Linked DNA regions of Homo sapiens: region 2 is linked to region 1. The links come from fine-mapping of genetic effects on gene expression. A gene starts in region 1. The other region holds a variant in brackets. All regions are shown on one strand. Distances are between the middles of the regions.

Evidence for each region. PIP is the estimated chance that this variant, and not a neighbour inherited with it, causes the effect.
Region 2: its variant is the best candidate, but not a certain one, in a credible set for the expression of VIP in lung (GTEx, PIP 0.50).

The regions. Positions count from the first base shown.
Region 1 is chr6:152,741,744-152,758,335 of GRCh38, reverse strand. It overlaps VIP (vasoactive intestinal peptide), which reads right to left and starts at 7,539. Exons shown (of 7, transcript NM_003381.4): 1 at 7,377-7,539; 2 at 6,052-6,168; 3 at 4,048-4,170; 4 at 2,963-3,067; 5 at 2,071-2,202; 6 at 1,152-1,240. The coding sequence starts at 6,158. The coding sequence ends at 1,195. It overlaps LINC02840 (long intergenic non-protein coding RNA 2840), which reads left to right. Exons shown (of 5, transcript NR_183508.1): 5 at 1-3,460. It also overlaps a transcript of MYCT1 not described here.
Region 2 is chr6:152,707,725-152,724,316 of GRCh38, reverse strand. It overlaps MYCT1 (MYC target 1), which reads right to left. Exons shown (of 2, transcript NM_025107.3): 2 at 1-2,575. The coding sequence ends at 2,064. Among named protein-coding and RNA genes, the nearest start is that of MYCT1, 18 kb to the right of the region's middle. RefSeq lists an enhancer at 1,929-3,128. The variant T/G (reference allele first, on the strand shown) is at 8,550.

The DNA.
Region 1 (16,592 bases):
TAATTAGTGGACAAAAGCAGTCAATTAAGCAGGTATCTTCCCAGACACCATGTCCACTCTTGATGACTGTTGAAAACCTTAGATAACCCCATCAGGAACTGAGGTAAGGCCATGAATTGCCTTTAGTTTGAGCATGGGTGAATTTAATCTCCTTAACCTAGTTAGGGATTGGAATCTGGCTCACCTTCAGGTTTTATGAATAAAGTTTTATTGGAACACAGTCACTCCTATTCGTTTTACATCTAACTGTGGCTGCTTTTGTGCTACCATAGCAGAGTTAAGTCACTCTAACAGAAAATAGATGGCTCACAAAGCCAAACATATTTTACTCCATAGCCCTTTAAAATCTGCTAACCTTTGATATGGTGACAGCATGAAATTTCTTTAAGCACTTGCCCAGTATTATAGATTTTTTATGAGCGAATGTGAATATTAATGTAATGTAACTCAGGAAAGAAATATGTCTTGAACCCACATTTATATAAAATCAATTTTGATAGCAAGCTTATTACTTCACAAAGAAAAAAAGTCTATCCATGTTTTTTCTGCTCAAAAAAAATGTTGGCAGAGAATGCTATTAGAGTCATATAGGTAAAACAAACTTACAGGTAAAACAAGCTAAATTTAACTTTTGCTCTATGAAGTTTGCCATGTTTCAAGGAATATAGTTAGACCCAGAATGCCTTGATATTTTCATAGTAATGGGCCATGCTCTAATTTGGTGCTATTTCCCTATACTTAATTGAGGAGCTAACAGTCAATTGTGAGACTAAACCTTCAATTAATAAAAGCAGCATGGGTCGATCCTCAAAAGGAAAGCCCATTTTTCTTGTCAGTGTGAGTCAGCCTCCTCTGTTTTTTTATCTTGATACAAAGGTAGAAATAACCCCAAGTAAGCCAGGAACACTATTCAGATCTCAAAACGTTTGCTTATTGTGAGTGCTCTCTTTTACAAGATCAAAAAAATTTCATGAATCATTCTAAGCTGTTTACTGGGTTGGGGTCCACTGTTGTAGAAGTGTCTGTCTTGGATGAGGTCTCATGATGAGAAACTATTTAACCCTAAGATGTTTCTTACTAAGTGACTCTTAGCTACTTATATAATCAGAGACAGCCATAAGAATACAGAAGGAATGCACGAATATACCCACCACTGGGAAGTTGTCATCAGCTTTGCTCCAAAGGTCTTTTTCATCATTTTTCTAACTCTTCTGGAAAGTCGGGAGATTCTCCCTCACTGCTGCAGACCAGAAAAACATTGTACATATTAAGGCTCTCAGATGAGAAAGGGTCTAAAGAAACTATTATGACATAATGAATGTGCTGTTCTCTGTGCTCTGAAAGTGTATGGGGAGGCTAAACAATTATCTTTGAGGTTTGTTAGTACCTATGAATTATTCATCAATCTTAGAGTTTCTAAAATTATTCTCACAGAATTATCATCTAGTGGGCAAAGAGGTCATCTTGTCTGATCACACCCAAACAGAATTATCCTTAATACTCATCACTTAAACAAAAACAATTGGAATAAAAAGACAGAACACTACACTGTTTATGTATTGTGTCCAATATTTACACACCATAGAGAGATATAGATTTTACAGAATCTAAATATACAAAATACCTAATGGTTTAATTTGATTAAATAACAGTAGTGAATATGCACACGAAGTGAGTTCCATGTGTTACCAAATTGCAATTGACTATGCTTTACATGTTTTAAAAATCATCACTTTTGATGAAACTTGCTCTTAGATTCAGACTAGATGTCTGTATAGTCATCATTTTTAACACTGGCAGCATAGTAAAGTCAACTGGGGAACTCTTAAAAGAAATGTATGTCTAGGGCCACACCACCGAAGACACCGATTTCCTGGCAATTGGTTTGGGAGAAGGCCCAGACATCTGTATTTTTAAAGTTCTGCGGGGTAGTCTAATGTCAGCCAAGGTTGAAAATCACTGCTTCACGTAGTATAGCTAGATAAGTGAGATAGAGAGGTCTCCATGTGCAGCTTCTATTTTGAAAGTCAGTCATGATTCCTCATTTTAGCAAGTTCTCTTTTTCTTTACCTCCTCTTTCCATTCAGAATTGAGTTCAAATATTTCTTTACAGCCATTTGTTTTCTAAGGCGGGTATAGTTGTCAGTGAAGACTGCATCTGAGTGACGTTTGACTGGTACAGGGTCTTCTGAGATGTTACTGCTAAGGAACATGAGGAAAAGGAAATCAAAGAGTTTTCACAAGAAATGATAAATACACACATGTTCCAGGTTTCTTGGAGCCACATAAAAAGCAATTCCCACCCAACTAATTTTCTATCATAAAAAGACTAAAAGAAAAATACAACTAAACCTAAGGATGAAGGAAAGCAAGGAATCATCTGCCATATTTTGGCATGGCCTGGGACTGTTTTATGACACATTCTGTACAGCTGAGCAAATAATTCATCCAAAAATAAAAATTTGGGAATAGCTGAAGTTGTGCTCTGCCATTGGGAGAAATTTTTTTTTTTTTTAAAAAAAACATAATTACTTCTTTAGAAGCTATGCTACCCTGAGCAACGTCATCTAAATATTTGACTGTTGGCCATTTGGAATTCTCCATTTAATTTGAGCAGGAAGTAAAAAGAATATTCTGTTTGACCTTAAAATTTACCTCAGTCTGTACTATCTCTTTTTGATTGTTTTACTGAGTCTTGTTCAATTTGATTGCAGATTGCTAAATGATTGCTACTTGAGAAAAATGTGTGTCTGGAGTCAATGAATATGATATTATGAAAAAGTCTTAGTCCATGGGCTTGATAGATGTTATTGAAGAATACAAGTTATTTCATTTAACTAAATTAAACATTATCAACGAGTTTTCAATTTCAAACAAAGTAAATAACTTGTTAAGAGTGAAAATACAATATTCAGATTGAATAATGATAACATATTTTATAAAAATAATAAATTCTCTTTACCTAACACGTTTTCCCATAAGAGACTCAAGGTACTTTTTGGCAGAAAGTTGACCCAAGAGTTTACTGAAGTCACTGGTGAAAACTCCATCAGCATGCCTGGCATTTCTAAAACAAGGAAGAAAAAAATAGCTATTATTTTGTAAATGGCTTTCTAGAATATTATTATGGCTTATTAAATAACAAAAAAATTATGGGCTTATTATGAAAGCTTCTCATTAAAACTAAAGTTCAAAAGGAGATTTCTTAACACCCTAACAAAAGAGATCTTCTAGTCACTTATATCAAGATATACCCTATATTTCTAGCCCAAGACACTGAAAAATTAAAGAAACAGGCATTTCTAGGAGCACATTTCAATATTCCTCCATGGTTGAATCTTTATAACTATTTCTTTCTAAGAAATATTGGTGTAAAAATATGATCTATTTAAATTAGCTGCTATTTGTACATGGTGCTTTGTGTCTGCCCCACTGAATAAAGACATTCACAATGGGAAAATATTCTGATTTTGGAAAGTTCATAAACCCCAGTACACCTTTTTTTTTCTTTTTCCAAAATATTTGGAAACAAAATCTCTTAAGATAGAGAAGGCATTAAGGCCTATCATCCCACCTTTTCTCTTTCAAATGAAGCACCTTTTATACTTTGTCTGTACCAAGTACTATAGAGCTACTTGGTCTGTACTTGAAATGATGCTCTAGACAAACAGCTCTATGAATGAACAGCTCTATCAGGTATCTTTTCTTTATATAGAGACAAAACTCCTTGGCAACTCTTCCATCATTGGAATGCTAAATGCTGTACTTTTATCAGAATTGGTACAATCTGTGATGTTGGAATTATGTGCAACAGAATGGAAGTGAATGGTGTGTTCATCCTGGCTTGTTACAACCTTTCAGTATGAAAATTATGTACAGCTGTAAGATCTGCAGTAAATCAGGATGAATGAAGCCATGACACATAGAAACCTCTAGTGTTTTGCTATCGGAATAGCTTCATGGTGAGATAAAATAAGCACGTTTATAGTTCTTAAACACATTTTCTAAAATAAAACTCATTGGATAGTTTTATAAAAATAAACTCACCTGGATACATCATAATAGGGTGTGTCATTTTCAGCTAATGCATTTTGCAACATGTCAATGTCTTCTTTTAATGAAACTTGATCAGGTTCATTTGCTCCCTCAAAGGGTATTCTGTCACCCAACCTGATGGGGAAAGTTACACGAGAATAATACATTCTTTTTTCAGAAGACAGTGTGTATGGTTCCGCAACCATTTAAAATAAGATACTTAGACTCTTGGGAAGTATTACCCAGTCATAATATGAGAATAGCATAATTTGACTTAATGGCTCATATAGTTAATGAGAGTATAAATAGGAAATTCCTATTATCCTATAAAGTAGATGCCATATGACTTTTATAAGCTGAATATACAAAACACAAGAGCTACTTAATTCAATCTTATCAGAGCATTAAGCAAACTATACTTCTTTGGTGTAATTTACTATGCCAAGAATATCTTCACTTTGCAAAGTCAAATTTCGTATGTAGAAATATTTTATGCAAAATAGAAACTTGCAAAAAACTAATATTGAATGAGAACTGATAACAATTTATGGATTTGGTGATGTTCAGTATTACCTGTTCCAAACATCTCTGAAGAACAGAGTATTAACTGCTTCTCTCTCTCTCGACCCCCAAGCTTTGCTTCAAATATTTACTTTGGCATTATATATTTCTCTGTATTGACAGAGTTCAAAGAATGTCTCCATAGATGGATAGCTCATCTATGAAGATGAATTTGAATTCAATAAGTTTTATGGGGCCTTCTTTTTTCTAATCTTATGTATTAACACAACTTTAATAAGGGATGTACAATGTTACACTGAAAGACTAAGAATAGTCAAATGCATATATGGAATATGACTATATTTATGGATGCATGCATATTTCAATCACCGGCAACTCTTATAATTTTGTGTGTGCAGATTTTCACTGTTAGGGCAAACATCCAAGGAGCGTGTCAGCTCCTGGACACTTGTGTATCTTTCAGTGATTTGGGAGTTGGGAGTCACTAGCAACTAGTCCTCTGTGGGTCTGAAGCTTAGCAATCAACACAAATGTCCACATTCTTGTGATTGTTCATCTGCTGTGGTAGAACTATTCAGATAGAACCATTTTGTTTAGTTATCAAAGCAACGCAGGAGCTGTATTTAAACAGATTTCACAGAGAACACTAATAGCTAAGAGGTTATTCTCTCTGTTGAGCATAAGTCTACCTTAAGCAAAAAATCAAGAATGACCTAATAAGCAAAGAAGGAAACCAACCCAATTATTATTTTTCCTTTGGAGATACAGTGGTGCCCGTAAACTGAAAGGAAAATTCAAGCTAATATAGTTTTCATTTATTGTTTACTTCTTTAGCATACATTAATAAAGTTTTAAATAAGAGTTGTGTTATACTTTATGGATTTGGAATATATAATATAACATATAGAACAATAAAACTAAGGATTTATGGTCCAAACAAAGTATATCAAAATTTTCCTATTGGGGGAGTGTATCTCAATAGATCAATTACCCCATATTTAATATTGGCAAATTGACTCTGCCTAGATAGATTTCTGTGCAACATGATTTTATACATGTTTCACTAATCAACTACTAGTCTTATGATTATTTACTGATTAATCTTGAAAATAAACTCAAATGTGGTTGGCAACTAAACAGCTTTTTTCCACCAGAAATTGAACTGACTTGAGATAACAATGGATAAAAGCTTATTATTTATCTAAAGATGGTTTTGAATAAAAAGAAAGTGAAAGCCTCCTTTCACCATGTTTGGGAATGTGATCCACTCAGCCCATAAAACTAATAACTGACAGTGTCTCTCATGCCCTGAAAGTGAATTCCAGGACTCAGAATGACCTGATGTTGACAAACACCTCTCACTCAACACATCAAGGAAAAATTTAAATACATAATACATAATTTATACTATTTAGTTGTCCAACAAAATGTATAGGAAATTCCCATTTAGATGAGGAAGGAATGTTCAGATGTTTGAATTGAAAGGGAACTTACCTGAGAGCAGAAGGTGCCCTGTAAAGAGGCCATGCCGAAGTCTGTGAGAAGAGCACACTGAGAAGAGTCAGGAGCACAAGGAGCTGGGCCTTATTTCTGGTGTCCATTTCTGTGCCTCTAAAGAGAGAGAATCACCTCAGTTCTTCCAGCCAAAGATGTCACCAGCAAGGTAATTCTGATTGTCTAGCAGTAATTTTCAATGGCTCTTGCAGAGTTTGTAAAGAGTAATTTTCATCTTGTAGAAAGAGTTAAATTGCAAGATGATACATTCAAAAATCAGTATTTCTCTCAGTGACAGGTGCTTGAATAAAAATTAGAATCCTTTTCACCTGCTGTCTGGGCACATGGTTGGCCCCAGTATCTATTGAATGCCATACTTCTATAGTGCTGGAAATAACCCTGGGGACAATCTTTTCATAACAGGGATGTACCACTCAAGCTTAGTGTATTTTTTGACGAAGGAAACAGCTTCAAGACATTGATTTTCTTCTGCTTTAAAATTTCAGTATCTGACTAATATAAGACTAGAGTATCATCTATTTAATAATTATTCTGCTCGTGTGTGTGCAAATGTATAAATATAATGTGTATATATACATATAATTTTAAAAAAGATTTTGTATATACATTACTTTTTCCTCTTTCAATTGTAGATATTACGGAAACTTATTTCCTTACACCTGGATTTGAACTTCTTAACTCAGTAGTGAATATTAATACTCAAAATATTACTGAATCATATGTTGTCATTGAAATAAATTTTTCCATAAGAGGAAAATATATATTAAAAGCAAAGCTTGCATTTCTTGCATTTAATCAACTTACACATTTCATTTCTAGTTTCTAGATTAAAAGCCTAGGAGTAAGGTCTGTTTCTCTTGCTGCCTATAAAAATTATGGAATTTAAACTTAAGGAAAAAATAAATGCATCTTAGATTCACTTAACCAACATACGAAATAGGAAAAAAAAAGCACTTTAAAAATAAGTTGAAAATTTCAAAAGCAAATGTTCCCACTGAAATTTTCAGTCAAAAATCTACATACAAGTAAACTTTACTTGAATGAATTATTTGTAAAAATCAGTATTCAGTAAAAGAGCAAGCAGGGTAAAGCATCTTACAAACAAAAGAATTCAGAAAATCTATCCATATGAGAGAAATTGAAGTATTTCTATCCTTACCAGGTGACTTGAGAAACTTGTTTTTTGCTGTTGCAAAAGCAAAGCACTATCAAATTCTTTTCAAGAGAGAAAAATTCATTATTTTGTGAGAAAAGTTCCAGAGGCAGGAGGGAAAAAGAAGAGGAAAGGTAAAGTTTTCACTTACCTCGCCCAGTCGTGCTCCCCCGGAGCTGACTGTTCTGGTTTGTTTTGGAGCTGTCTTAGGTGCTGAAGTCCTGGGAGTAAGAGAAAGGCTCCACCAGTTCTCTGCCCTTAGCAATGGCTAAGGGTTGGCTGTTACTGCCTGCTGGTGCTTCTCACTCTACCCTGACCAGCATTTCAAAGCCCATCATTTTATAGGGCTTATACTTAGGACTGAGCAATCACAAAGTGCTCTGAAAGACGTCACAGTATGACGGCCATGGGATGAATAGGGCTTGAAGTTCTTACTTAATTGTCATTATGCCTAATTTATATAAGTTTATAGTGAGCAACTTCAAAATGTAAGATAAGAGGAAATTTACTTTTCTTTAAACAAACAAAGTAGCAAGCTCAATGTGAAATGTTTTAACCTTTAATTAATTGTAAAATAAGAAAATGATTGTAGTGTTATAGCCAGGGCCATTGGGATTCCTTCAGAAAATAAAGACTTCATGTGTAGAAACAAATGCATAAAGCAACAAACACTTATGTTCATTACGCTTATAAAAGTATAATTATACTTTATTACAAAGTATCAATTCTCTTAATATTTTTAATTTTTATGCTATTCATATAGTTCCAGATTTAATCTTTCTTGAAATCTATCCTAACTTTAAAAGCTCTAGAGATAATTTTCACCTTCCTATTATTACATTTCGTCTTTGTTGAAACTAATTCCAAGATAAGTGTTTCAGAAAGTCTCTAAGATAGTAAGATATGCACGCTGTTGTACAAAGCAGTACAAGTAGTGCTATTTCATATTTGTATAAAATGGCACAATTCCCAATGCACTTTTACATACACTGTGTCAAATGATCCAAAAAATAAATTGTTGTCAGGCTATATACCTCAAGGAATTTAATTGTCTTTTCTTTTTAAAGATTTTCCTCATCACTTTTATAAGTCTTTGCATAATGTAGAATTAGTTTTCTACCCTCATCCCCAACACACACACATACTCAAACCAGTTTTGAACATTTCTGATTCAATCACTTGACAGGTGGCTTCAAATAGTTGAAAAGCATTTATATAGTACTTTGATAAATACTTCACTTCTATTTGTGGATTTGTAACTAAAGGTAGTCTAGCACACATTCAATCAGAGTTTAAGGTAAAAATGCAGCCACATGAAAAATTTCCTAAACAACAGAGGAAAATGCCATTTTTCCTTTTATTTTAAAGGCTTTCTGCCATGTGTATTATTTTTACATTTTGTTTCTAAGTTTCATAAGACAGAATGGCTTTACAGTCCTCTTTCTTCTACTTTAAGATTGTAGTATCTATTTCCTTCGTTCAAAGTCAGACTGATCCAGTAAAAGAATATCCTGCTATGCTTAATCATATTTTCTAATCCAGTTACCAGAAAAATTAAATGAATTAAGTTTCAAAATGTCTGGAAATTTGTTTCCCAGTTGACAGCTCTGACTTAAGCCAGAGTTCCTGTGGCTTAATTCCAGGAAATCTTTTTTACCTGATTATTACAAACTAGAGGTTGAAACAGTTCTCATATGGAATTTTTTTATCCTTAGCTCTTCATCACCCAATTCTTAGTGAACCAATTTTATTTAAGAGCAGAAACAGCAAAGCAACTTAATTGAGGGTCACAGACAAATGACTGCTGAATGATAAGAAGAAAAATTTTAAACATAAAAGATGTAAAGCTGATCATTATTTGGCCTAGGCAAGCACTTAGCATTTACAAAGAGTAACTATAGTAGCTTTTCCCAATACAAAAGACAATTGCTTCTATTATAATAATAATAAGATAAAATAAAAAGAAATAATTCAATTTTATTACCTCTGAATAAAAGTAAACTCAACCAAACAACTGCATTTTCTCTTATGAATTTAAACTAGAAAGCAAAACAATTTGAAAATGGAATCATAGCACCATCTGCAGGTTCAAAGTTTTAATTCACAGACTTTATAGAATTGTGTTTATTTCTTCTTTTCTTTCAAGGAAATGAATTGTAAACCAGAGGTCCTGTAGCCAGCTTAACTTTTGGATGCTTCCAGAAAAAATAAACATAAGAAAAAGTACTGCAGTCAAATTTATCCTGAATTCTCGGTTACCATAAAACTTAGTAAATAAGTACAAAGATACAAACTTGAATTTACTGTTTAAATGTGTCTTTTCCGTACTTTGACATATTCTTCCATAATTTGCCTACATTTCTGGCAAAGTTTATTTTTGCCTTAGGCCTTCTCAGTAAAGTGATGTTTGTAATAAGGGGAACTATAATTCATTCACATGGATAGAAAAATCTTCAAGATCCTTCTTTTACAAATAAGTAAACTGATCTCCAGAAAGTTTCAGTAATTTTTGCCACTCAGGTGGTTAATAACAAATACGAGATTGGAAGATAGACCGTCTGATTTTGAGTCAGCATTCTTTCAATTTAGAATTGGTAATATTCTGTAATTGTTGCTATCACCTTTTTGATGCTAGCAGGTCAGATATGGAAATTGACAGCTCATAAAAATATTGGCATCTCCTCTCCCCTTTTTTCACCAACAGAACCAAGAGCAGGGAAATAAAACTGGCATTCTAAATTCAAACATACTGGATGCAAGGAAATTAGATGGAAGGGATTTTCAAGCTCAGGATATTAGCAGAAATCCAAATTTGCCTTTTTTTCTTTAGTGCAAAATACTAATAGAGGGTCCATATTCTTATTATGGATTAAATGCCTAAGCTTGTGCTCTTCTGCCTCTTTTTATGGTGGTTTTACCTGCCTAATTCACCCTATTTCACCTCCAGTCCTGAGACTTAGCCAATGTCTGCGTTGGTAATCCTGAGTGGGTAAGTCTAGATCAGAGGTCTGGAAACTACAGGCTGTGAGCTAAATAGACTGACCCCTCTGGATTTTGTTTGTTTGTTTCTTCATTCATTTGTTTTTGTTTGTTTACATCTCTCAAGCTAAGAATGATGTTTATATTTTTAAATGGTTAAAAAAATTAAATGAACTTTTTGTGACACATGACAATTATACGTTATTATTTTATTTTATTTTGAGACGGAGTCTCATGCACTCTATCATCCAGGCTGGAGTACAGTGGTGCAATCTTGGTGCACTGCAACCTCTGCTTCCCAGATTCAAGCGATTCTCGTGCCTCAGCCCCCAGAGTAGCTGGGACCACTGGTGCCCACCATGTTGGTCGGGCTTTGGTCTGGAACTCCTGAGCTCAAGTGATCCGCCTGCCTCGGACTCCCAAAGTGCTGTGATTACAGGTGTGAGCCACCTCCCTGGCCAAAACTTATATATAATTTAAACGTCAGTGTCCATAAATAAAGTTTTGTTGGAACATAAAAGCATTTCATCATATATGTATTCTCTATAGCTGCTTTTGTGCTACAACGGCAAAGTTGGATAGTTGCAACAAACTGCACAGCTCTCAAAGGTTAAAATAATTACTATTTGATCTTTCACAAAAAAAGTTTTTCAATCCCCTAGATCCTCCTGTTTGGCAGATATTTAAGATGATATGTTTGCTTTAATAGTCTTAAATCCAATATCTTTCAATAACTTGTATTAGGAAATATATATTTGCGTATATATATTTTATATACCTAATGTATAATGTATTATGTACTGTATATGTTATATATACATAAATACATATATTCTATACAATATATTATACATGTATATATGTATAACATACAGAATATATACATACATTTAATATACATGTATACTTTTACTAAAAGTGTACATTTGCATAAGATGTATATACATACGTATATTTGTATAGCATATTAAAAGTTTATATATTTAAAGCATCTATATTAGAGTATATATAAACACTTTCAATTCTTTTAAATTAGAAAATTTGAACTTATTTTCAGGATTTTGTATTCTTGTCATATTAGTGATTTGATGAAAATAATATTACAATAAAGGTAAATTTTCCCTTTAAAGTTACCTATTAGAATTCATTTCGGAATCTAAAAATATATCAGCAAATATAAAGCAAAACAAATAATGATCTAAATGATATGATCGAGGACAACTTCTCCCTTAACTCCAAAACCTCGTTATCTGTCCCACTTACTGATGCTGAGTTTAGAGAAAATTATTCCTTTGTCTCAGAATTTTTTTGCTTCAAATCAAATTACATGTAGAAAGAACAATGCAAGTGCTGCAAGTCATTCGAACTTTATTAGGGTTGTATGTATCAGACGATTTCCTGAAAATAGATTTCAAAAAGAAGGGTATAGAGAAATCACAGGAACACACAATACTAAGATGTGGAAGTTGAAAAATAGAGTATTAAAGATTTTAAAACCAATTTTACCTACTTCACAATGTCATCTCTTATGTATATGTTCCCCCACCACATAGAGTAGTCCTCCCTTATCTGCAGTTTCTCTTTCCATGATTTCAGTTACCTGTGGTCAACAGCAGTCTGAAAACATTAATGGAAAATTCCAGAAATAAACCATTTATTTGCTTTAAACTGTGTGCCATTCCAAATAGCATGATGAAATCTTCTGCCATCCTGCCCAGTCCAGCCTGGGATGTGAATCATCCCTTTGTCCAGCATATCTGTGCTGTCTATGCTACCTCCCAGGTAGTCACTTAGCCAATTTGTTGACAGATGGAAAATACATGGTTTATGTAGGGTTAGGTGCTGTCAGTGGTTTCAGGCGTCTGCCGGGGTGTTGGGAGATGACTGTACACATTCCATGCAACCAGCCTTCAACTCAATCACCCTCTGTGTTTACTATATGGATCAAATGAAAAACAACCATGTCTAATTTCTGGCTTTTAACCTTAAGAAAGCTGCAGTCTAGATGTTAGAATGAAGATTTGGCAAGAATATTTTCTGAGTGAGTTCTCATGGCCCCTCTACCACTACATCTATTCTCCACAGGCCAGGGAAGAGCCTCTGAGATGGGGAAGCTGGTGTGAGTTTATGGTAGAGTGGAAGGGATGGATGACAGAACCCTGTGTTATCAAGTGTAGGGGCTGAACAATAGAGGCTAACTTGGCTTCATTTCACATCTGGTTGACATAAGACAAAGCAAATCATGGAGAAACACTCTGCATAATGGTACGGGAGACAAACCTGGATGATAGTTGCACACCCTGCTTAGGAAAACCCAAAATACCATCCAAGGAACAAAGAGTGGAAAGGGCCTAGCAACGGACAGGTTTTAAACAACCTACCAAGAGCCAGCGTGGGTGTCCACACCCAGGGACCAGATGTCACTGCATATTTCAGTCGATGACAGCCAGCCCTAGACCATCTCCAAAGTGCCCAGAGGAAGCCTCCCAGATTTCACATTGCTCTGTCAGAAGCTTAGATGCTACTCTGAGGGAAAAGAGGAGACAAATCCTCTTTTCAAATCTGAAAGACAACATTTGAAATGACAGAAAATCTGAAATGATAGAATTTTAAATCTGAAAAGTATTGCCTTTACCTAGAAATGATCAAGTTAAACTTTTTTTCCCCTAGACTTGGAGTCTGTCTCTGTAACCCAGGCTGGATGGCAGTGGCACAACTGTAGCTCAAGGCAGCCTCCAACTCCTGAGCTCAAGTGATCCTCCTGCTTCAGCCTCCCATGCCGCCAAGATTACAGGTGTGAGCCACTGCACCTGGCAGAGGTAAACATTTTTAAAAACAAATTTTTGTGTTCATTTTACTCTGTGGCCTGTGAAAATATATACTCACCATTACTTTACAATGGCCTTGAATTGTGTATAGTCATGGTTTGCCTGGGAAGAGCCTGCCAGGGACCCTATATCCTACTTAGTGTTAAAACCAGTTTCAAAGAGGCCCTGGGACCGAAGCTTGGTAACTTTGAGATTTGTCCTAGAATGGAGCACGGGGGCAGGATGGAGGCCTGCCCTGACCCTGGAGGCCACATGTCTCCCTCCCTCTCTTTGTTCTTCAGTTGTTCCAGCTGGTCTCCAACTTTGCCACCTGGTTCCTCACCTTAGGCTTCTTCAACCCATTCCTTGGCCCTAAAGCTAAACCTGTTTCTTTCAGTTTGCCTCAGCCCTAGAGGACCTCCCAGGAGCCCTGAGTTTCGGCTTACTCTTGGGAGAGATCTGACGCCACAGGCTCTCCCCCCAGCTCCCGCCTCTGCTGGGAACCCTCTCTGCTCTTCTTCACTGTTTCTATTTCCTTGAAGGCTGACCTTTATGGACTACATCGTCCACACCCTGGTCCTCTGGCTGCTGGCTGGGCTCAGCAAAAGAGACGTGCTGGTTGGAAATGAAAGGACCAAAGAGGAGGGAAAGAGAGTTCTGGGTATTTATTCCCCTAGGCCATGGCTTGGAAGAGACTACATTCCTCCCGCAAGATTCAGTTTCTGCAGGGTGGCCTCTCTCCTGCAGCCCTAGAGGGGCCAACGGCTCCCTGCTGAGGCTCATTCATGGATTACTCGCTACCTCACTACTTCTACCTCTTTATTAAACTCTCCTCAATTCTACCTCTTTATTAAACTCTCCTCAATTCACCTTTGGAAAGAGCCTTGAGTCCTTCCTGGACCCTTCCTAGTGTACTCCCATTCCCACACCCAATATTTAATTTTAGGATTGGATAGCTTCAGAAGGCCTGCATGTTTTAAAATTTTTGGTATTTTTCATTTGAGTTGGAAGAACTCTTAAAATAATCAATGTGGGAACTTGGAGGAAGGGCACTCTAGCCCCGAGCCGGTCTGTCCAATTGGTGAACAATTGATTTCTGAAGACTGCTGCTGAAACACAAATACATTAGAAGTTCATTCAGGCCCTTGATGCTCCTCGAGTCCCCTCCAGGAAAAGAAGCTGGATCCATTGCTGACACAATTGCAGAGAAAAGGTCAATGTGCTGCCAGAAGCCAGACACCAAATCCTCATGGGGTCTTTGTGAGGAGGTGTAGAGTAGCCTTGGGAAGGAGACTTGAGGCAAACTGGGCCCTGCGTCTCCAGGGCTGCTGGCGCCTGGCCCTCAGGAAAGAAACTCTCCCTGTCAAGGAAGCAGGAGCTGCAGCTATTTGATAAGCTTTTAAAATCACCATTCTTCTTAATCATATATTCTAATATCCTGTATCTGTAGTTACTTCCCTGTACTTCCAAGTCTGGAACACTAATGTTCTCATTTCTGACTCATAAAACCATCATTTTCAGCTAGAAAGAATTTAAGGTAATTTAGTCCTGTCACTTTGTTTTGAGAAATTTTAGCAACTTCATAACTGAAAAAAGGCAAGTGACTTCCAATGAGTAGCGGAGCTGAGATCTGGACCTTTCACCTTTCTCTTCAAGTGGGTTGTGAGGCCAGCAAATTCAAAACCCACAGAATAGAGCATGGAGAGTGGGGAGTGGGGCATGGTTGCCTTGCTGCTGTGACCCTCCGGATTTACCGGGACGGTTGAGCAATGTGTAGTGATGATGTTAACAGGCAGTTCAATCCAGTGATTTACATTTGCTTGCAAATAGTTCTTACCCCAAATGACAACCAAAAGAAATGTTGTTGAGATGCATCCTAACGGGGAGTCGCTTCCTAGGTCCACACTCCTTTCTGTGGCTGCAGTGCCTTTAGGGTGTCTCAAAGAAATACCACGCAAGGGCCGGGCGCAGTGGCTCATGCCTATAATCCCAGCACTTTGAGAGGCTGAGGCAGGTGGATTGCTTGAGGCCAGGAGTTCAAAACCAGCCTGACCAACATGGCATAACCCTATCTCTACTATAAATACAAAAATCAGCCGGGCGTGGTGGTGCATGCCTGTGTTCCCAGCTACATGGGAGGCTGAGGCAGGAGAATTAAGCAGAATTGCTTAAACCTAGGAGGCAGAGGTTGCAGTGAGCTGAGATCATGTGACTGCACTCCAGCCTGGGTGACAGAGAGAGATTCTGTCAAAACAACAACAACAACAACAACTACAAAATAATCGAAATGCCATGGAGGGAAAGAGAGAAAGCCGCTTTTTCTGTCAAAACAGTGCTGAGCCTAAGTATTAGATAGAGAAGGCACAGGGTGCTTCTTTCTTCTCTACATTCACAAGGACTATTCTTGGCATTTTTCTTACTAAGGAAATGAGAAACACTTTTGCAGTCATCAGAGTTTCTAGAAACAGATATCAATGACCTCTGCCTCTGACAATCATACTTATGTGTATAAACAGGTATCAATGACCTCTGCCTCTGACAATCATACTTACACATATACAATCATACATTATGTGTGATGGGGGAAATCAATGTGGGATTCCAAGTTCTTTGGATGACAAAACTGAGGATCCACTAAAGAAGGCCCGGCCTCCATTCTCCCTCTCCTGTGCAACTTCTATAGACTCAAATAGGGTTCCACTAGTTACAACCTTTTTTCTTCCAAGCTCTTTTCCATAATGCTGCTAAAGTGATCTTCCCCCAAAATGTCTTTGATCATATCATTCCCTTGTTTATAATCTTTCTGTGGTTCCCTATTGCTCTTGAAGGAAACAGGCTTGCAAGCCTGGATCACGCTATTCTCATCAATGGTCCCTCATTGTCCCCTCCCCATCCACCCACAATCTATTCTCAGCCACGTGGAACAACTTTCAGGTTCTCAAAAGTACCGTATTCTCTCATGTCTCTGGCTTTTCACACATACCATTTCCTCCCTCAGAAACACCTACTCCAATCTCTTTTTATCCTTCGGGTCTCAGCTTACAGTAGAACATTTTTTTCCAGAAAGACTGTAACCCATTCTCCCATCAAATTTGGGTGAGGTGCTGTGATTTTGGGCCCTTGTTTAACCCCGTATTTCCCCCAGCCTAACACTGAGCATGTTGGATCACTACAGTGACATACAATGACATTTCCTCCATCGCCAGACACTTTTAGCATGCAAAAGCATGTTGCTGTCACGTAATAGGTGCTCAGTAACTATTTCAGATGAGCGAGTGAATGAGATTGAAATTGTACTTATTTCAACTCTATTTGGTTTGGACCTCAAGTCTTTTTAAAAAACTTTTATTGTTTTAGTTTTCAGTTCTTTGGGTCCAATGTTCAATACTTCTTTCCTATTCTCAAATAAAACTTAGTCTTTGTACAGGATGGCTATTACTGAAATCCTACCAGCTTTGTTTTGAAAGATTTCTCAGCCATGTTTCTTTTTTTCTCTAGGCTAAGTTTCATTCGATGATAGTCGTTTTCTTAGTCCTTTAAGTCATCTGAATAATGCTTGATTCATATATTGGGACGTATTT
Region 2 (16,592 bases), 34 kb after region 1:
ATTCTTGATAAAAACCATACTCTTTGCTGATTTTTCATGTTAGACATTAAGGATGACATGCAAGTAAAAAAAAAAAAAAAAAAGTAGCCCTGATACCAAGTTAATATTCCCTTGAAACCTTACTTGGCTGCTAAATTTCTTTGTTGAAAACCAACTTATAACAAATTGGTTATCCGGTTAGCTTTTTTCCCTTTTTCTTCCATTTTCTTCTTGCTCCCTCTTTCTCTTACTTTTTCCTTTTGGCATGTTTAATTAGAGAACATTTTCTATAAGCATTATTAAGAATAATTGTCCTTAAGGAATGATGGATAATATAAGGGAAATGAAAATAATAAAGAAAATGCTACATGGAATCTCTTATTCTTGAACCATGTTCAGACACTATTAGCTGTGACCACTGCAATAGGAAATGAAAAAGAGGGTACTTTTTCACTGAAAATCCCACTGTTCAAAGAAACAAAGAAACGGCCACATAAACTAAATATTCACAATACTGGAAATGAACCACAGACTTTTTGAGTAATACTCCAGTGAACTCATGTCCTTAAATGAGAAGGGCAGCCACAGACATCTGCCCACTGGAACTCTCTGGTGGCCACATTTAGGGATGCATTCTTCCTTACAAGGGCAGCCACCTGTGGAAGTGGATTCTTAAATAACTGTGTGCACCAAAGACCATCTGGCATGGCTTAATCACTGTACAGACTCTGCAGAGAAGTTGGAATTGAGATTCGTAGAGAAGCAAACCAGGAATGATGCCTGATGATTAAGAGTCAATCCAGGAAGGAGAATTCTTCATGGGCAACATCTATTTCAATAACAAACTCTCTCCCCAGTGACTCATACTTATTTGTCTGCAAAGTTACAAAAGAAGATCCCCAGAGAAAGTGCTTTCCAAGTTGCTAGATGTAAGTTTAAGAAAGAAAATTTTTCCCTTAAGAAAAACGTGAGCTTGGTTTTAAACTTGAGGCTTGTTTTTAGGTCAAATGAATTGGATTTTTTCCTGTTGCTTTTCTAACAATGTAACGACAACGGTGAAGAAAAGGTAAATCATCATGTTAGTAAATCCAAGGATTTTGCCTCCAGGAAGTAGATAACTATTCTTGGGAAAAACACATAAAGAGTTTGTCCAGAAAAAATTAGTGTCAAAAATGAAACATCCAATGACACCAAAAGAGTTCAGTTTCCTGTGCTTGAGTCCCACACTTCTTATAATGATCAAATCAAGGAACTTTAGAATGTCCTATGTTCTGTCATTTTGTGCCCACATATTCCATTAAAAATCCAAGATTGGCCAGGCTAATTCCAGCACTTTGGGAGGCCGAGGCAGGAGGATCATCTGAGTTTAGGAGTTTGAGACCAGCCTTGGTAACATAGTGACACTTCATCTCTACTAAAATTAAAAAAAAATTCAACCCGGTGTGGTAGTGCACCCCTGTAGTCCCAGCTACTTGGGGCACTAAGATGGGAGGATTACTTGAGCCTGGGAGATAGAGGCTGCAGTGAGTCCTGATCATGCTACTGCAACTCCCGCCTGGGCGACGGATCAAGACCCTGTCTCAAAAGAAAAAAAAAGAAAAATCTAAGATTGTAAAATGTCAATATGATTCACTTGTCATTCTAAAGAAAGTAAAATCCAAATCCCTTAGAAGATTTTTCTTTAAAGTGACACAGTGATTTTTTTTCTCTTTTTAGTCACATTGGAAGTAAATGAGGATTGTAATCCACAAATATCTGAAGTTTTAATTTTAATTAAAATATATATAATGCATCTTAGCTGATTCTTACATTAGAATCACTATTTTTAATAAGCCTCACATTGAATACAAAATACATAAATATAAAACGCTTGGGGGAAAATATTACATTTTTTGAAACAAAAGGGAAAACGTGTTTGAAGAAAATGTGTTTTACATTGTAATGTCCAACTTGCACAACCATGTTTCAACTTGGAACTCATGAGTTATTTGGGCCATGCCCTCAAAATTCTGTTTAGCCTATTTTTGATTTCCTTTCAATAAAAGACAAGACAAGAAAGAAACAAAAACCAAAAGCCACCCTACTCAGGAATCTGGGAATGCCTTGATGATGGACTCATAGGCAGGTGGGGGCGGTGTTGAAAGGCCCACTCGAAGACTGTTACTGGACCAGTAGTCAGGACGGCTCAGACTGTGGGAAGTGCTGATGGTGGGAGAGATATTGGAAGAAGGGAGAGTCACCAGCTGACTCTCAGTTTCCACAGGAAGTGGTGGACATTGCAGAAAGGGATGGAAAGTAGAAGCTCTGAAACTTGATTTTCTTGGAAAGGAATTTGCTTGTTCCAGGGAAGCTTGTCGCTGGAAGGTGAGACTGGCCAGGCTGAGGTTGCTTCGACGTTCACAGCCACTGTGGCGGTAAAATCCAGTTCTGTTGAGGCCGTGGGTGTAAGAAGACCTAGATCTCCTGCTTGAACTCCACTGTGAGATGGGAGCACTGGCTCTTCTTCTTCGAGACAGACAAATGAACACAGCCCAAATAAATCCTCCAAGTACCAGCCCGATTGCCATGGATACAGTGAAGGACATGATAAGGTCCTCTGAAACAAAGAAAACAAATTGCTAAATCAATTTTTAAATAGGTTTTCAACTAAAAACAAGGGTCAGCATATATACTGTAATTCAAAGAATACATGATTAATTTAAACATACTTTGAATTAGGGAAATAGAAGACAGTGTTAGGTGGATATGAACAAATGGAAGCTGATAATGCTTCCATTTATTCAAGCAGAAAGATACAAAATAACACTTTCAGCTGCGGCATTCCAGGTCACTTAACCTGTTTTATCATCTTTAAGAAATAAAAGATAAAAGTAGTCTTACTTGATGTCATTAATTTATGGCATTTAGTTCATCCATTTTTTACAGAGCTGCAAATGTAGCCCAAAGTTGATTTCCTTTTGAGTTATAGTAGTAACTAATGTGCCAGATTGATAAAGAATTTTGTCATCACTTTGATGTTGCCTTTTCCTCTGTCTGCTTTCATCAATCACATTGATTTCTGCCACCTGCAGTCTTCATGATGCCTCACTTCCTTTGCTCTTTCTGAGACAGGAAGTGCTGGGATAGAACCATCTGGCCAGCTGACTGATTTATGTCATATTTCCTGAACTCCCAGACAGTCACCTATATCTCTGACTCTTTGATGACTTGACCTGTGCAGACTACTGGGCTCTTTCTTGTTTCCCAGGTTCCAGCTCATGCTTCTGTTACGCCCTTGTGATGATGAAATTCCTGTCACCTGAACCTCCATAGAGCCTCGGCTACGTACCAGTATTCTGTAATTTGTAGAACTTGTAATTTGTTCAGATTTCCCTTTCTGGGGAGAAAAATGCCTTTTCCTAATGGAAATGCTACCTTACTGCCTCTTGTAAACTAAATACATATTCTTGAATGAAACTAGGTAACTGAGTCTCCCCTCACCACACCACTTTGCAAAGAAAAATTCTGGGTATTAGAAGACTCCTCCAGCCTGTTGGTCCCCCACATTTCCCCTCCATGATCAAACCCCTTGTCCCCAACGTTTCCCCTCCATGATCTAACCCACAAGTCATGCTCGTTTCTCACTGTACCAAAGCCTGTCATTCTCTCTAAAACTCTGAGCTTTTCCACATATTTGTCCTTTTATCTGAATTCAATTTTTTAAGCTTCTGTCTGGAAAACTCATTCTTCAAGCTCTACCTTCAAGTATCACATCTTCAGTAAAGACTCCTACATTTCCTAGACAAAAATAAGTTACTGCTAAGTAGAAAGGTAAGCTATCATATCTAATTGCTTATGTAGGTAGTCTGTATTGAGAGAGCCATAGCCTGAAAATTAGCTGATGGGTGTTGTGAGACTGGGGAAGAGGAGGAGAAAATAGCCACAAACGTTTTGCTGTTCCTCCCATCAAGAGATAGAGTCTATTTCCCCACCCCTTGAATCTGGGCAGGCTTCATGACTTGCTTTGACGGTAGGATGCAATGGAATTGAAGCTATACAAGTTCAAGCCTAAGCTACAAGAGGCTCAGCATCCACCCTTCCTTCTCTTGGGACCCCTGCCATTGTCAGCATATAAATAAGGCCAGACTAGCCTGCCAGATGATGAGAGACACATGGCCCAGGAACCCCTACTGCCCTAGCCAAGAGCCTGCTAACCTGGACATATGAATGGTGTCATCCTAGATAATTCAGATGCTAGTCAACTCACCAAATGACTGTGACACATGAGCAAAGACCAGCAGAAAATCCACCAAGCTGATTTCATCTCAAATTACCAATCCACAGGATTGTGAGCTAAGCAAATTATTATTAGTTTAAGCTACTATGTTTGGGGGTGGATTGTTACATGGCAAAAGCTCTCTGATAAAGGGTTCCAAACTCAGCTCTGTTCCTAATATGTTTTGTGATTTTTAGGGAATTTGTTTAGACCCACTGATTTCATTATACATATATATAAAGGAGTTAGATTTTATGATTGCCAAGGTTCTTTTTAGCATATTGTAATCTATAATATGTAGACTACCTAGAATGCAGAAATAACAAAACAAACTAATGTTAATAACTACAAAGGAATAATCACTGCTGTCTAATTTTAGGATATAGTTCAGTGTCCTTCCACCATATATTGTCACATTTATCTCCTGTGGAAAAGCTACATTTATTGTGTCCTACTTTCACAATTATCTGTACAAATAATTATATCAACATTCTCTAAAGCAATGGCTTTATGCAAAGTTCCCAGGCACATTTTTTAGTGTATTATATCACTTAATCCTCAAACATCCCAATAAAGGAAATGCTAGCGTTATTCCCATTTAATAGTTGTGGCTACTGAGAGGTAAGTAACAAGCCCATAGTCCCACACCTGGTGAAGGTCAAGTAAGGATCTGAGACCAAAGCATCTTAATTCATAGTTAATTGCTTATTTATTTTCTAAGTGTAAGGTAAGAAAATATTAATCTAAAATGAAAATGAGCAATATAAATTGCATAAAAATTGGTCGATTCAATACCAGAGTATCTTGCAGCCTGTTATGAACAGAAATACTTGAGAGAATGGTGGTTAAATAATATTGTGTGTTCTACAGATATATTTCCATGAATCAATAGCCTTTAGTGGAGACTTTTAAATATCAACAAGCTCAGCTATGGACTCATAGAAATGGAGTTTCAGCTAAAACAAGCTTTTGAAAATGTGTTGGACATAAATTCCTCATTTTATAGATATTGAAACAGAAGCTAAGGTTCATGTGGTAGAATTAACACTTGATTTATTGTAATAATTGATTGGCAAGTATCGGTGGTTAGGGAACTATTAGTTACACTAGTGTATGATACAAATGAGAAGACAAATACTCAAATTTACAAAGTATATGTCCTTCCTATGTGTAAATGTACCTAACCACTACTAGAGTCTGACTGAAGACTCTAAATATCTCAGTATATAAGCAGGCATAATAGATAAAATGTAAAAAGAGATGTTTCCTTGATTTCAGCAAAATGGAGTTAAAACCAGAATCTGAAAGGAGAAAATATATTCAGTTACTCAATGAAAGTATTTAAAGATTACAAGAGTCCTTGTACATGGTCTCTGTGTACGCCCTTTGAGCCTCTCATCTTCTGACAAATCAGATATTCCCAATATAAATGTTATTTATAGTGGAATAATAGCAAACTTTAGATTCGAGAAAAAAATAGAAACTATTTAAATACACAATCAATGAAAAATAATTTCTTGTCTATTATTGTGATTGAGGCCAGGTGCAGTGGCTCATGCCTATAATCCCAGCACTTTGCGAGGCCGAGGTGAGAGGGTCGCTTGAGCCCAGACCAGCCTGGGCAACATAATGGGACCTGTCTCTACAAAAAGTAAAAATAAATTAATTAAATAAAATACAGCAATTGAGTATATTAGCAAAAACAACAAAAATACATGGAGTGAGAAATATATTTATATTTCAGATGACTGTTTTATTTCCAAAATACATTATTGTTCTGATGTAAGAAAACTAGGATAATATCCAAACTCTAATGGGCAAGTTATTATAGAATATATTGGACCATCACAATTTTCTTAAATGACAAGTTTCAGTTTGGGAACTAAAAAGATTATTTTTGTGGCACTAAAACTATAACAATATTTCCATGAGAGGAATTTGACAACAAACCTATTTAAAATGATCATTCTCTGTGGCTTGGTAATACTTTGATTTGATATGGTAAACCTATTGTCTATGCCCAAAATTTGGGGAAATGACTTAAAATGTCATCAAATATTGGGTTATATAGATATCCAAAAAGGATTAAATAATGAATTTAAAATGTACGTGAGAATCATAATAATAATATATACACACAATAATAGGCTATTTAAATTTTGAATGAATATAAAGTAGGATAAGATGGGGGTGCAACGGAAATTATACAAATTACAAAAAAATTGCTTTTGATATGGATTTGTTTAATTTTTGCTCAGTAGAGTACACGCATCATGAAAACGACTTCTTAATCCATAAAGTCAGTAAAATACACACTTTAGAAATTGCATTAGTCTGTTTTCATGCTGCTGATAAAGACATACCTGAGACTGGGCAATTTACAAAAGAAAGAGGTTTAATTGGACTTACATTTCCACATGGCTGGGGAGGCCTCACAATCCTGGTGGAAGACAAGCAGGAGCAAGCCACATCTTGCATGGATGGCAGCAGACGAAGAGAGCTTGTGCAGGAAAACTCCCCCTCATAATAACCATCAGATCTCGTGAGACTTACTCAGTATCACAAGAACAGCACAGGAAATTCCTGCCCCCATGATTCAATTACCTTCCACCGGGTCCCTCCCACAACATGTGGGAATTCAAAATGAGATTTGGGTGGGGACACAGCCAAACCATATCAGAAATCATTGCACTAATTCTTATACCTTGCAGAATATTAAAACACCTACAAATAATACTGCTGACAGAAGAATTTCTAAGACTTCCTGAGGTATATGGTAAAATACTTATCTATCTTCTTAAGCTCCCTTAAGTCCAAACAGCAAAGGCAAATGTAGAAATGCAGAAAGGCAATAAGAAAGAGATGCTGAGTCAAATAACAGGGGTGGTTTTCATACACATTTTTTTTTCATTTAATTATAGTTGATGATTTTTCTGACCTGCCCAAACTAGAATTTAGAAACTGTGTGATGAAAGCAGCATCTACTGGTCATACAGCTTTAAATTTTCATATATGTAATTCCATTCTGGCAGACTTTTGACAATGTATTTTGGGAGCCTTTTTTAAAACCTAGTGTAGAAGAAAATGTAACTGAAAAAAAAGACATTGGCAAAGATATTACTTTTTAAAAAATGATATGCCTTCTTACTTCTCAACAATCTAAGGAGAAGAAAAATGAGCCATAATCTTTCTTCTTAATAATTGCAATATAATGCAACTTATGAGACCAAATGATTACTTTTAAAAATGTTAACTTTCCTTTTGAAAGCAGAAGGAAAAAACTCTAACATTGGTCAGCTATGCCATATAAATTAAATATATGTCATCCTAATTTGTAATACGTACCTACAAAACTAGCAAGTAGATGGCACATAACAAGCCCTCAACGAACACTGGCTCTTACTGCTAATAGTTGTGTAATTTCCTCAAGTCATTTGACCCTTCTTGGCCTGATAATAACAGCCACGTTCGTGTCTTCCAATTTTAATATTGTAATATTGAATATGATTTTTAGTAAATATAATCAATACCTCAAATTCCATCCACTGGTATTAAAATTTAGTAGAGGTCACCATCTAGTGGCCTTGAGTTGAAGCATTCCAACTCTGAAAGTGATTTATCAGTGATGGCAGAATGTAACATTGTTTAAAACATTCAAAAACCCTTTGCAGTTGTTAAGAATCATAAGTTCAATGTTCACCAAAGCAGGCCATGAAGTCCTTGGTATCATAGAGTGTATAGGAGAATGGTTCAGGCAATAGAACTACTTTTGACGAAAAGGGCTTTTAGGGAGAATAATATTTAGGGCATAGAAATTTGATTGATTATAATAATTTAAACAGCCGAGGAGTATTTTCCATTATATCTCATGTGCCAGAACATCTTATTGGGTCTGTTTTCACAAACAAAAAGAAATCCAGAATTCAACTTCTCACTACCCACTCTGCGACTTCACTGATCCAAGTGGCCACATTCCCACATCTGTGACCTGGAATATGGTCTTCCTGCTTCTGTCCTTGCCATATCCCTCACACCCCAACAATGTGCTCAATGCAGTAGTCAGAGAGAACATTATAAAATGTAAGTCAAATCATATCAATCTTCTGTTCTAAATCCTCCACTTCTCCCAGAGTAAAAACAAATGCCTAAGAATATCCTAAAAGTCCCTACTTGATAGGCTCCCAATTATCTGAGCCCATCTCCTCTACTCTTCCTTTGGGTCACTGAGCTCTGTCTGCACTTCCCCCCTCACCATTCCTTAAGTACATCAGATGGGCTGGCTCCTGACTTAGGGCCCATCCCTGGTTGTAATCTA[T/G]TCCTAAAATTATTTCCTCAGCTATCTGTATGGTTAATTTCAGGTCTTTTGCTTATATGTAAGTTTCTCATTGAGGTCTACCCTGGCTGCTCCACCTAAAATGACACCCTGTCCCACCTCTGAAGCCTAAATGGAATTCTTGTTTTTCTTTTTTCCTTCCTGGTTAATGGAAACTACATTCATTAATTTATACTCTAAGAAAATGTGAATGAGACGCATAACCATTATGAGCTGAAAATGTCATTATGTTTGAAAGATAGGAGGATAACATATATCTGGAAGGTTTAAAAAAGCTTCATGGAAAAAATAAATTGTAGATGCCTTTTTGTGAATGGTAGTGGTCAAATAAACAAAAGGCTTGGAGATTTGAAAGTAGTTTTGATCAAAATTATAAAGCACAAGCCATATTCTGAATATAATTAGTTAACAGTATTGCTAGAGGTGAGGGCAAATTCAAAAGTATCAAGGTAGCACACCCCTTTCTGTATATGATAGACTAACATGTATCAAACCAATGAGAGCAAGCGTACAATGGAGAATAAAATATTTTCTTAAATTTGTTTGAAGCCATCAGAGACTTATCAAAACTATTAAATCAAAGGAGCAAATTCCAGGAGAAAAGAAAATCTTTCATCACAATAATCTGTAAAAAGAAACAAAAATATCTGAGTAGAATGCTGTGCACTATAAGTAAGCTTAGAAAACATAAGTTGGTGTTCAGGGGCTGCCAAGGAAGTTGGACCCTAGGAAACATCCCAGAATCTGGAATTAGGCCCCCTAGGATCTACTCCCTAAGCTTAATGGTAAACAGGAGAAAGACCAGACCTCACAAAGATAAAAATATAGATCAATCCCAAGTTGGACTGAGGTGATCTTCCCCTAACTGCCAGAAGGAAAGTTTTATACATATATATGAAATAGAAAGTTATATACTTAAATAAATTTATATATACCTAATAATGTTATATATATATGTGTTATAAATAATAAATTACAAGTCATCCTAAGAGGCAAGACAAAGTAAACAAAAACTAAAAGAACAAATAGAAAATGGAAAAATATCTGTAAGTTATGAAAATATTTGAATTATCAGACAAAAATATTAAAATAACTTGATTAATGTGTTTAAAAAATTAACAAGTTAAAAATTTTCAGCAGAGATTGAGGATCTATAAAGAAAATTAAATAAAATACCTAATGAAAATTATAAAATATTTTAACTGAATTCTGATAAAATTGTGAAATATCGAAACATGTGAGATGTGCCTAAAGCCACATTCATAAGAACATTTATAGCTTTATAGGTATACATTTTAAAATAAGAAAGCCTACAAAAACAATTATTTCAGTTTCCATATTAAGAAGCTAGGAAAAGATCACTAGCTGAAACATAAGTAAAGTAGCATACAGTAAATAAGAGAAAGCAGAACTTAATGAAACAGGGGCAAAAAAAAAAAAAAAAGAAAAAGAAAAAATAGAGGAAATTATCAAAGCCAGATATGAAAAAAATCTAATAAAAATGAATAAAATACTAATTGGAACGACAAGGATGGAAAGAGGAGAGAAAGAGAAAGAGGGAAAAAGAGTGGGCAGGAGCAAGAGAAAGAGACAGAGAGAAAGAGAAAATCACCAATATCAAGAGTAAGAAATGTGACATTAGAACAGATACAGGCAATAAAAACATCAAGCTAGGATTCCAAATCAGCTTTTATGAACTGACCCTTTCAAGTAATAATGACTATGAACACTGAAAACAATATAAAAAAAAATTCTACCTAAAGGCCTTAAGAATGACCAAATGCTTGTAGCTACTGGAGAGGAGTTGAGACCTGGAAGAAAAGAACAGCAAGTACTAGTCAAGCTCCAGTTTTCAAACCTTTTAACCTGAGGGAAGCTTCCAGTCTGGGACAGGTAAAGCTACAGTCGAAAACCTGCACTGTTTCTGATCTTGAGAAACAAAGGACAGAGATTGTGGAAACAAGAGCTGCTGAGAATGTGAGAGGGAAATCCTGGAGAAGAGAAAGCCAGAGAGGAGAATCCCCAAATTTTATTTATAAACATTTCACATATCTTTGGTTGACTCCTGAATCACACATACGTGGGATGTATTCCAAACAGCACTAGAGAAAAAAAAATAAACTAAAGTGAGATTTAAGCTGCTGCCCAAGGGACAGGCTTTATAGGTTTCTGTAGTTGTAGTTCCACAGAGTTATTTGCCTGTGAAAATAAACTAGGGGGAAAACATACATCATAACACTCTTCAGGGTAATATAGCAGAATCCATTCAAAATGTTCAAGATACAATATGAAATTACTGGGCACATGAAGAAACAGGAAAATGTGATCCATTCTTAAGAGAAAAGACAGTCAACAAAAACAAACTTTAAGATGATCCAGACATAATTAGCAGACAAAAATTTTAAAGCAACTCATATGTCCATATTCAATGATTTCAAGTAAAACACTCACAATGAATAAAATGATAGGAAATTTCAGCAAAGAAATAGAAACTATAAGAAATAACAAAATGGATATTCTAAAACTAAAAAAATGAGAACTAAAAAATTTATACCATGAGCTTAACAGTGAAATTAAAATGAGAGAGAAAAGAATCGGCCAACTTAAAGGTGTATTAATAGAACTTATCCAATTTGAAAAATGGAGAAAAATATTGGGGGGAAAAAGCAAGCCTCTAGGCCTTGTGGAACTATATAAAAATATTTAACAAATGTGCAATTATAATCCCCCAAACAGAGGAAAGGGTGGATGGAGCTAAAAACATTTTGAATAAATGAGGCTGAAATTTTTCAAAATTAGTGAAACAAATTAATCTACAAATCAAGAGTCTCAGTAACATCAAGCAGAATATATATAAAGAACTATGCACGTCATAGTCAAACAGCTGAAGATCAAAGGTTAACAAAAAAAACTTGAACACAGCCAAATTACAAATAATAATAACATTACATTCATAAAAGACAATTATTTAAATACTCACTTTTAATAAGACACGGTGATATTTTAAAGTGATTTTAAAAAAGCTGTCAACTCAGAATTTTATATCCAGCAAAAGTATCCCTTAAGTATAGTAGTGAAATAAATACTCTTTCAGGGGGAGGAGCCAAGATGGCCGAATAGGAACAGCTCCGGTCTACAGCTCCCAGGGTGAGCGACGCAGAAGACGGGTGATTTCTGCATTTCCATCTGAGGTACCGGGTTCATCTCACTAGGGAGTGCCAGACAGTGGGCGCAGGCCAGTGTGTGTGCGCACCGTGCGCGAGCCGAAGCAGGGCGAGGCATTGCCTCACCTGGGAAGCGCAAGGGGTCAGGGAGTTCCCAGGAATTGAACAAGGATACCCAGGAATTGAACTCAGCTCTGCACCAAGCAGACCTAATAGACATCTACAGAACTCTCCACCCCAAATCAACAGAATATACATTTTTTTCAGCACCACACCACACCTATTCCAAAATTGACCACATAGTTGGAAGTAAAGCTCTCCTCAGCAAATGTAAAAGAACAGAAATTATAACAAACTATCTCTCAGACCACAGTGCAATCAAACTAGAACTCAGGATTAAGAATCTCACTCAAAGCCGCTCAACTACATGGAAACTGAACAACCTGCTCCTGAATGACTACTGGGTACATAACGAAATGAAGGCAGAAATAAAGATGTTCTTTGAAACCAACGAGAACAAAGACACCACATACCAGAATCTCTGGGACGCATTCAAAGCAGTGTGTAGAGGGAAATTTATAGCACTAAATGCCTACAAGAGAAAGCAGGAAAGATCCAAAATTGACACCCTAACATCACAATTAAAAGAACTAGAAAAGCAAGAGCAAACACATTCAAAAGCTAGCAGAAGGCAAGAAATAACTAAAATCAGAGCAGAACTGAAGGAAATAGAGACACAAAAAACCCTTCAAAAAATCAATGAATCCAGGAGCTGGTTTTTTGAAAGGATCAACAAAATTGATAGACCGCTAGCAAGACTAATAAAGAAAAAAAGAGAGAAGAATCAAATAGACACAATAAAAAATGATAAAGGGGATATCACCACCGATCCCACAGAAATACAAACTACCATCAGAGAATACTACAAACACCTCTACGCAAATAAACTAGAAAATCTAGAAGAAATGGATACATTCCTCGACACATACACTCTCCCAAGACTAAACCAGGAAGAAGTTGAATCTCTGAATAGACCAATAACAGGCTCTGAAATTGTGGCAATAATCAATAGTTTACCAACCAAAAAGAGTCCAGGACCAGATGGATTCACAGCCGAATTCTACCAGAGGTACAAGGAGGAACTGGTACCATTCCTTCTGAAACTATTCCAATCAATAGAAAAAGAGGGAATCCTCCCTAACTCATTTTATGAGGCCAGCATCATTCTGATACCAAAGCCAGGCAGAGACACAACCAAAAAAGAGAATTTTAGACCAATATCCTTGATGAACATTGATGCAAAAATCCTCAATAAAATACTGGCAAACCGAATCCAGCAGCACATCAAAAAGCTTATCCACCATGATCAAGTGGGCTTCATCCCTGGGATGCAAGGCTGGTTCAATATACGCAAATCAATAAATGTAATCCAGCATATAAACAGAGCCAAAGACAAAAACCACATGATTATCTCAATAGATGCAGAAAAAGCCTTTGACAAAATTCAACAACCCTTCATGCTAAAAACTCTCAATAAATTAGGTATTGATGGGACGTATTTCAAAATAATAAGAGCTATCTATGACAAACCCACAGCCAATATCATACTGAATGGGCAAAAACTGGAAGCATTCCCTTTGAAAACTGGCACAAGACAGGGATGCCCTCTCTCACCACTCCTATTCAACATAGTGTTGGAAGTTCTGGCCAGGGCAATCAGGCAGGAGAAGGAAATAAAGGGTATTCAATTAGGAAAAGAGGAAGTCAAATTGTCCCTGTTTGCAGACGACATGATTGTTTATCTAGAAAACCCCATCGTCTCAGCCCAAAATCTCCTTAAGCTGATAAGCAACTTCAGCAAAGTCTCAGGATACAAAATCAATGTACAAAAATCACAAGCATTCTTATACACCAACAACAGACAAACAGAGAGCCAAATCACGGGTGAACTCCCATTCACAATTGCTTCAAAGAGAATAAAATACCTAGGAATCCAACTTACAAGGGATGTGAAGGACCTCTTCAAGGAGAACTACAAACCACTGCTCAAGGAAATAAAAGAGGAGACAAACAAATGGAAGAACATTCCATGCTCATGGGTAGGAAGAATCAATATCGTGAAAATGGCCATACTGCCCAAGGTAATTTACAGATTCAATGCCATCCCCATCAAGCTACCAATGACTTTCTTCACAGAATTGGAAAAAACTACTTTAAAGTTCATATGGAACCAAAAAAGAGCCCGCATTGCCAAGTCAATCCTAAGCCAAAAGAACAAAGCTGGAGGCATCACACTACCTGACTTCAAACTATACTACAAGGTTACAGTAACCAAAACAGCATGGTACTGGTACCAAAACAGAGATATAGATCAATGGAACAGAACAGAGCCCTCAGAAATAATGCCGCATATCTACAACTATCTGATCTTTGACAAACCTGAGAAAAACAAGCAATGGGGAAAGGATTCCCTATTTAATAAATGGTGCTGGGAAAACTGGCTAGCCATATGTAGAAAGCTGAAACTGGATCCCTTCCTTACACCTTATACAAAAATCAATTCAAGATGGATTAAAGATTTAAACGTTAAACCTAAAACCATAAAAACCCTAGAAGAAAACCTAGGCATTACCATTCAGGACATAGGCGTGGGCAAGGACTTCATGTCCAAAACACCAAAAGCAATGGCAACAAAAGACAAAATTGACAAATGGGATCTAATTAAACTAAAGAGCTTCTGCACAGCAAAAGAAACTACCATCAGAGTGAACAGGCAACCTACAACATGGGAGAAAATTTTCGCAACCTACTCATCTGACAAAGTGCTAATATCCAGAATCTACAATGAACTCAAACAAATTTACAAGAAAAAAACAAACAACCCCATCAAAAAGTGGGCGAAGGACATGAACAGACACTTCTCAAAAGAAGACATTTATGCAGCCAAAAAACACATGAAGAAATGCTCATCATCACTGGCCATCAGAGAAATGCAAATCAAAACCACTATGAGATATCATCTCACACCAGTTAGAATGGCAATCATTAAAAAGTCAGGAAACAACAGGTGCTGGAGAGGATGCGGAGAAATAGGAACACTTTTACACTGTTGGTGGGACTGTAAACTAGTTCAACCATTGTGGAAGTCAGTGTGGCGATTCCTCAGGGATCTAGAACTAGAAATACCATTTGACCCAGCCATCCCGTTACTGGGTATATACCCAAATGAGTATAAATCATGCTGCTATAAAGACACATGCACACGTATGTTTATTGCGGCACTATTCACAATAGCAAAGACTTGGAACCAACCCAAATGTCCAACAATGGTAGACTGGATTAAGAAAATGTGGCACATATACACCATGGAATACTATGCAGCCATAAAAAATGATGAGTTCATATCCTTTGTAGGGACATGGATGAAATTGGAAACCATCATTCTCAGTAAACTATCGCAAGAACAAAAAACCAAACACCGCATATTCTCACTCATAGGTGGGAATTGAACAATGAGATCACATGGACACAGGAAGGGGAATATCACACTCTGGGGACTGTGGTGGGGTCGGGGGAGGGGGGAGGGATAGCATTGGGAGATATACCTAATGCTAGATGACACATTAGTGGGTGCAGCGCACCAGCATGGCACATGTATACATATGTAACTAACCTGCACAATGTGCACATGTACCCTAAAACTTAGAGTATAATAAAAAAAAAAATAAAAAAATAAATACTCTTTCAGGTGAAACAGAATTCAAATTAATCACCAGCACACCTACACTAAAACATGTGCTGAAGAAAATCCTTAGTCTGGGGATAATGAAAACTGGGATCTTTAAGAAGAAATTGAGACCATCAGAAATAGTATCAGAGTAAATATAGAAGACTCTTTTCCATCAATTTCTTTAAAATATATTTTTCTAGCTAGAGCAAAAATTAAAATATTTTCATATGAAATGTATAGTTTATATAGATTTAATATGTAATAATTATAATACAAAGAATTGGGACAGGATATAAATAAATCTATTAGCTTGATTGATTGATTTAGTTTTTAAGAGATTTTAGAGACAGGGACTTACTATATCATCCAGGCTGGTCTCAAAGTTTTGGGCTCAAATGACCCTCCCACCTCAGTCTCCAAGTAACTGAGACTACAGGCACACACCAATGCACTCAGCTATTAGCTTGTTTTTTATATTGAAAATCTTATGTATTCTAAAATATAACTACAAATTATATTAAGCAAGACTGCAGAATGTAAGACTTATATATAAAAATACGTTTATATACTAGCAGCAAACAACTGGAAAGTATAATTACACCATTACAATAGCATCATTAAGCATAACATACCTAGGCATCTTTTTTTACAAAATGTATGCAAGATGTCTGCACCACAAATTTTGAAATACTACTGAAATAAATTAAAGGTCTAAAAAGTGGAGAGATATACTATATTTGTGAATTACAAGCCTCAATATTATTAAGATGCCAACTGCCCTTAAATTTATTTATATAAATAAATTTATATAACTAAATCAACTAAAAGTCCAATAAACAGGCTGTTTGTATTATTTTACAAATGACCCTAAGTTGTATATGATGACAATACAAAGGAACAATAAAAGCAAAGCTGGAAGCATCACACCACTTGATTTTAAAATATACTACAAAGCTATAATAGTCAAAACAGCAAGGTACTGGCATTTACATAGACATTTAGATTAATGAAACATAATAGGGAGGAAGCCCAGTAATAAATCCATGCATTTGTGACAATTGGTATTTGACAACAGTATCAAAAATGCACAATGGGGAAATTATTGCCTCTTCAATAAGAGGTAATGGGAAA